2 separate regions of the Homo sapiens genome follow, and region 2 is linked to region 1. The links come from fine-mapping of genetic effects on plasma protein levels. Region 1 holds a variant in brackets. A gene starts in the other region. All regions are shown on their forward strands.

What was found. A credible set is the group of variants that fine-mapping cannot tell apart. PIP is the posterior inclusion probability: the model's chance that the variant is causal. The UK Biobank Pharma Proteomics Project read protein levels with antibody pairs (Olink). The fine-mapping took linkage between variants from a reference panel, not from the people measured, so its PIPs are less certain.
Region 2: it holds the start of CRLF1, and the variant in region 1 is the best candidate, but not a certain one, in a credible set for the plasma level of the CRLF1 protein (UK Biobank, PIP 0.62).

Annotation. Positions count from the first base shown.
Region 1 is chr5:173,321,999-173,324,848 of GRCh38, forward strand. It overlaps STC2 (stanniocalcin 2), which reads right to left. Exons shown (of 4, transcript NM_003714.3): 3 at 1,221-1,432. Among named protein-coding and RNA genes, the nearest start is that of STC2, 5.0 kb to the right of the region's middle. RefSeq lists an enhancer at 1,745-2,245. The variant C/A (reference allele first, on the strand shown) is at 1,119.
Region 2 is chr19:18,605,497-18,608,369 of GRCh38, forward strand. It overlaps CRLF1 (cytokine receptor like factor 1), which reads right to left and starts at 1,303. Exons shown (of 9, transcript NM_004750.5): 1 at 1,046-1,303. The coding sequence starts at 1,160. RefSeq lists an enhancer at 425-1,343.

The DNA of each region.
Region 1 (2,850 bases):
TAACACTGTAGCAAGGGTGTTGCAAGATGCCTATGACCTTATAACCAAGTGGAAAGAGACAGGAGGTGCTTGCTGTTCTCTGTCATCTAAGTGGTGTTGGTGTGGTAGGGACATAACTGGAAGAAGGTTGTGGCACAAACTGAGGATCAAGAGTTCATAAAATTATACCGATTTGGCTCAATGAGTCACCGTGGAGAGACCAACAGTGCCATCAAACTGGTAATGACTTGTACTGAACTGGTTGGCTAGTGGCTTTCTTTCTGCCCTGTGTCTCTTAGGAAAGAGCCATTGTCAATATTTAAAAAAAAAATCTTCAGGGGCTCCTGGCCCTGCCTCATGTTAGGAACAATTGTGTACCAACATGCTTTACCATGCTGCAAAATTTAGGATCCTGTGGCTGAAATATTTTGTAAGAAATGATGCATCCTGAATTTATCATTGAATTTCAAGTCTTGAAATAAGTAAGTTCACATTTCCTTGTTTTGGCATAGAAGTGTTTAGCTGATTAAAGTTTTTGGCACTTGTTTTGCATTTCCTCTGAGAGGGCACTAATGTATGAGAGAAGGTAAACCGAACCTTCTAAGGGAAAGGAAAGTTAAGGAGGCAGGAAAAGCATCTATAGCTCTGTTTTCGGGATTTAAGAGTATAGGTTCTGGAGGCAGACTGCTCAGCAGACTGGAGCCAGGTCCCAAGTCTGGCTTTGCCTGTCACTAGCTGTGTGAGCTCTGCCTTAGTGAGTCTCAGTTTTCTCATCTGTCAAATGGAGGTGACGAGGGCTGTGGTGAGGATCAAGTGAAAAATTCACAAGGAGCCCTTAGCCCAGTGCCTGGCGCTTAGTAAATATTCAACAAATGTTATTAGCAATTTGCTGTCTGTAAGGACACCTCTACAGCTACTCAGAATATTCTGAGAGCTAGTGGGTTCTTGGCTAAGGGGAAGATGAAGAGTATTACTGAATCGACACATTTCATTCTTAGTAAAACGATTTCCCATTTCTGTTGCTTGTGATTTTGAGACTGATGAGGGAATTCTCTCTTTTCCTAAAAGCCAGCAGGAAAGGGGCCTTTTAGTAGAGTCAGTGTAGCTTTCTGAAGTAAATGGAAGCCTTCTCCATTTGA[C/A]AGGCATTCAGCCTCTAGAAGCAACGCGGCTCTCCTCCCATACACATTGCCATCCTTGCTGGGTGGCCCCTTCACCCAGGCCCTCTGCGGGGCAGTACTCACTCGTGCAGCAGCAAGTCCTTGAAATGGATCATCTCCACTATCACCCGGGTGTTCTCCTGGGCAGCCGCGCACAGGTCGTGCTTGAGGTAGCATTCCCGCTGCAACTGGGACACCATTTCCCTGATGGCCGGGCACTTCCGGCTTATGCAGCCGAACCTGTGCCGCAGAGCGTGGGCCTTACATTTCAAGGCGTCTTTGATGAATGACTTGCCCTGAGAACACACAGGCCGGGGAAGGGAGAGAGGGGCAGAAAGCAGAAGACCTCGTTACATGCTTGGACATTTCAGCCCTTCTTGGGCTTACACAGGATATTTCTGACATCAGAACCCCAAGGCCCCACCAGAGACGGACGTCCTCCCAGGTGACAGGCAATGCGACATCCGGAGGCACGTCCAGAGTGACATGACACCCCCAGCACTGGGCAACAAGGGATGTTCATTCTGTAGACGAACACATCTCCCTCCTTCCTCCCTGGCTACTCTGTGAGTTTCCCTCCAACGGGGGCTTCCGTGGCTATGTGTCCCTCAGGTAGCCCTGTGTTGGTTGTGTGGTGGCAACTTTTCTGGAACACAAAGGGAATTTGGCCAGACACAAATCCATAAATCCCTCACGGTTCTCACAAGCAGTCTTCCCTAAGTGGAAGGTGCCTGCATGTCCAAATCTCACACGTTTCCTTTTTCCCTTGATTCCAGGGGCGACACCGAGATTGATTGCTGATTGTACCTCCCTTTCTGCCTCCGTGCCTCCCACGCCCCAAATCCATACCCTTGTCTCCTCCTACCCTACCAGGAAGAGCGCTCTTTTCCTTTTTGAAAATGACTCTACTCCTTTAAACTGTTCGGATTATTGCCTCTAAAAGGCTGGCCTGGCACCCTGCCTGGCAGCATCTGGAGTCTGAACTGCCGCACTGGCGGCCCCTCCCCCACGCTCCCTGCCTCCGAGTGGCGAAGGCAGCCAGGCATACATCTGGCCTGCAGTTCTCTTTCCTGGCAACCCCGTCTGATTGTGCTTATCCTAGAAAGGAGACAGCTGTTGGGGGTGTGGAGGCGAGCTCGGTGCTGCTCCCTTATCAACCTCGCGCAGCCCGGAGGCATTGTGGGATGCCTACCCGGGAATCCCCGCACCCCACATTACTATAGAAACTAGCTGTCGTCGGAGAGGTCACCCCTCTGTTTTTAGACAGGCCCGGAAGTCACTGAGTTGAGAAAGTAAATGGGTTTAGGTTGGAAGTGGGAAGCCAGCCAGCACATTTATTTTGGTTTTGTCTTTAGCAGCCATAGAAATGTCTACAGATAGCGTCTGATCTCTGAAAAACCATGTGGCCCGCATGGCCTCCCCGTGGCCCCCTCTCTTTTGACTCTCCAGCCAGAGCCAAACAGAATGGAGGGCAGGGTGTGCCCGTTTATTAAGCAGTTATGTGCTGAGCATCAACTTGAAAGGGATGTCTCTAACTTGAGAACGTATTCCTGTTGGTTGGGAAAAAAAAGAGGAAGATGAATTTATGCGAGGGCTGTGGCAATCTGTTCTTGGTATTCTTCCCTGACATCCTGTGGGATTGCCCTTAAATACACGTCTTTCCTCCGGATTTCCTATTACGTTTCCTAATTCCCGTTAATCCAGAGTGATGCTT
Region 2 (2,873 bases), not on the chromosome of region 1:
CTCTGTGCCCCTGGGTCGCCTCCCCTGTGGGATGTGTGTGACCGTGAATGTGTGTGTCGGGGATGGAATGTGTGTGCGTCCGCGATGGTGCGCGAATGTGCACCTGGGATGCAGTGTGCGCGAGTTTGAGGGCGAGGGTGACGGGCCACAAGCCAGTGTGATTCTTTGTGTGTCTCTGGGTGTGTCCCAGAGCGGGTCTGCATACGGAGACGTATCCTTGCGGGGGTGTTCCTTGGATGGGGGGCCCCAGAGTGCCTGAGGCCAGAAGTCCCTCCAGGGCAGGGGTCTTGGCCCGTAGGGCAGCGGGTTCCCAGTGGGCCCCCTCAAAGTTTGGGCCCGCTGGTGCCCGGACTCACTGGCTCCCGCTCCCTCTCCCTCTCACCCACTCGCTCACAAAGATTCCTCTCGCTGGAGGCTCTCCGCCCGACGCAGCCTGGCTGAAAACGGTTCTAAGCGCCGCCGGTGGCGGGGACTCCGCGGACCCCCGTGCGCCGGGTCCCGCAGGGGGAGGGCGGTGGCGCCGGCCCGTGGAGACACAAGTCCCCCGGGACCCCGGGCTGCGCGCCAGGCGGCCAGAGCGGCCCCCCTGCAGCCCCGCCCTCCCCGTGGGGCTCATCCCTCCGCCTGGGGGGGCCCGCTGGGGGCCCGCACCCAGCGCGCCAACCGCGTGCGCCCCCGCCTGGGAGCGGTGCCCTGCAGTCCCAGGGGCCCAGAGTCCACCGAAGCAGACGCGTGCGCCCGCCACGTCCTGGCATGCAGAGGGTCTCAGGCCGCGATCCCCCCAGCCCCCGGGGGCCTGGCCTGGCGCCCTCGGCCCAGCTGCCCAGGTAACAGGGCCTCGGGCGCGGAAGCAGGACTCTCTGGACAGTGGACTGCGGCGCCGTGTGCCCCGCAGGTGAGGGCGCCCCGAGGGCTGCGCCGGGGGCGCCTTCCTTTGTTCCCCGGCCGTCCAGGTGGCGCCCGCGCCCCCTCCCCCCGCGGCTGCCCCCGGGGCGCCCGCCCTCTGCTCTGGCAGGGGGGAAGGAGTGGGGCGCCGGGTACTCACGGGCTCCTGATCCGGCTCGCGGCGCCCCGAGGACGCAGAGCAGCAGCAGCAGGGGCAGCAACGGCGGCGGCCGCCGCGCGGATTGGGCGGCGGGGCCCCGGCGGCCGGCGGGCATGGGGCCGGCGCTGCCGGGGGCGCGCGGCGGGCTGCGGCTCGGCGGCGGTGGCGCAGGGCGCGGGACGCAGGCCGGGCGCGGGAGGGCGCGGGCCAGGCCGCCCGCACGTCGCTGGGCGCGGACGCGGAGGCCGGAGCAAGTCTGAGCAGCCGAATTGACAAGGCGCTAATGCGCCGCTGGCCCCGCCCGGCCCCGCCCCCGGCCCGGCCCGGCCCCGGGGGGGCGGCGGGCCCCGCACCGGCCTCCCCGCCGCCCGCCCGCCCGCGGGCACCGCGCGCCCCGCCCGTCCCGCCTCCGCCCCACCGAGAACCGCGCGCGCCCTATCCCGCGGCCCAAAGCCCCCTAACTCAACCCCTACCGGCCCAGGACCTCCCTCTCCAACCCTGCCAGCTCCAGGCTTCCCACCCCCAGTCTGGGACCCGGCACCCCCAATCCCGTTTCCATAACCCTGCCCACTTCCCTGCACCCTCCTCTCAGCCCAGTGCCTCTTCAGTGGCCCCTTTGGTCCCCAACCCTGCCCCACTCCTCCATTCCCCCTTCCACGGCCCAATCTTCTGTCTCGGCCCCCACCCCAGCTCTGGCCCCGCCCCCCCCACCGAGCGGTCCTTGAGTCCCGCCTACCCCCATCTCCAGCCCCTCAGCCTTCCCAGGGGCCTAAAAGTCACCCCCAGCCCCACGCCCTCGGCGCGCGGGTTCCAGCCCTCCCACCTCATCCTGCCTCTTTTCGATTCTCCGCGAGTAGCCTCGGCCCCAGGCTTTGCTGGAAGAAAGGAGAAAAAGCAGGAAGGCACGGAGTCCCTCGCCTTCGCCCTGGCTGCGCTGTCCCCTTCGCGCGCGGGATGGGTTTGAGGTTGCTCTGGGCGCCCCGGGGGCCTCGGGAGGGAGCTCCTGCGTGGGCAGACGGGGAGATGTAGTCCCCTGTGGGAGCCGGGACCCAGGCCTGCGCGGGAACTGGGTCCCGCACCGCAGTAAGAGGGATTCCCAGGAGGAGAGCGGTAAGAAGCTCTTTCCCCGGGACCTATTCACACCCCGCCACGGAAAAATCCACTCAGCGGCCCGCGGGTGGGGTGCGCCACGCGGTGAGTAATCGCTTCGGCGGCCACCGCCCGCCGACTCCAGGTAACGCCGGCTGCCCGGAGCGACGCATAGTTTGTCTTCCTTCTTTTGCGCAAAGAGCCTTCTCCGTGTTATTATTTTTGGCCATTGCTCGAGTTTCGGGACCCCTCCCGGTCCGGGCGTCTCATCTCCCTCCTCCCGGTCCCCACCCGATGCGGGCGCCCAGGAATAAAGGGTTCCTGGCCTCCAAGGCTGCTGCGGATGGGGGTGCCTGAAATGAGAGTTGGGGGGTGCAATTACCCACTTTTGGTCGCAGCCCCGCCCCCAGCTGCAGCGCCCAGGGAAGGGAACGGCTCCAAGTCCCCTTTTCCAGGAGTCCCTTAGAGGCCTGGATTCTCTCTCCTGGTCCCCAACCAGCCAAGGGGGTAAAAGTGTCTGAGGGGGGCTCAGGAGCCCCCATTTGTCTGCCCAAGACTGAAGCCCCACCCTCTCCTACTTAAATCTCCAGTTCAGACTCCAGACTGTCAAAAAACAAGATTGGGGGATGGGAGCCTATAGGGGCCCAGGGCGCCCCTGCTCCATCTGAATTCTGGATGGAGAAGACAGACAAGGAGAGACGCTGCCATTTACTTCGGGAAACCAGGCCTTTTGTGCCTC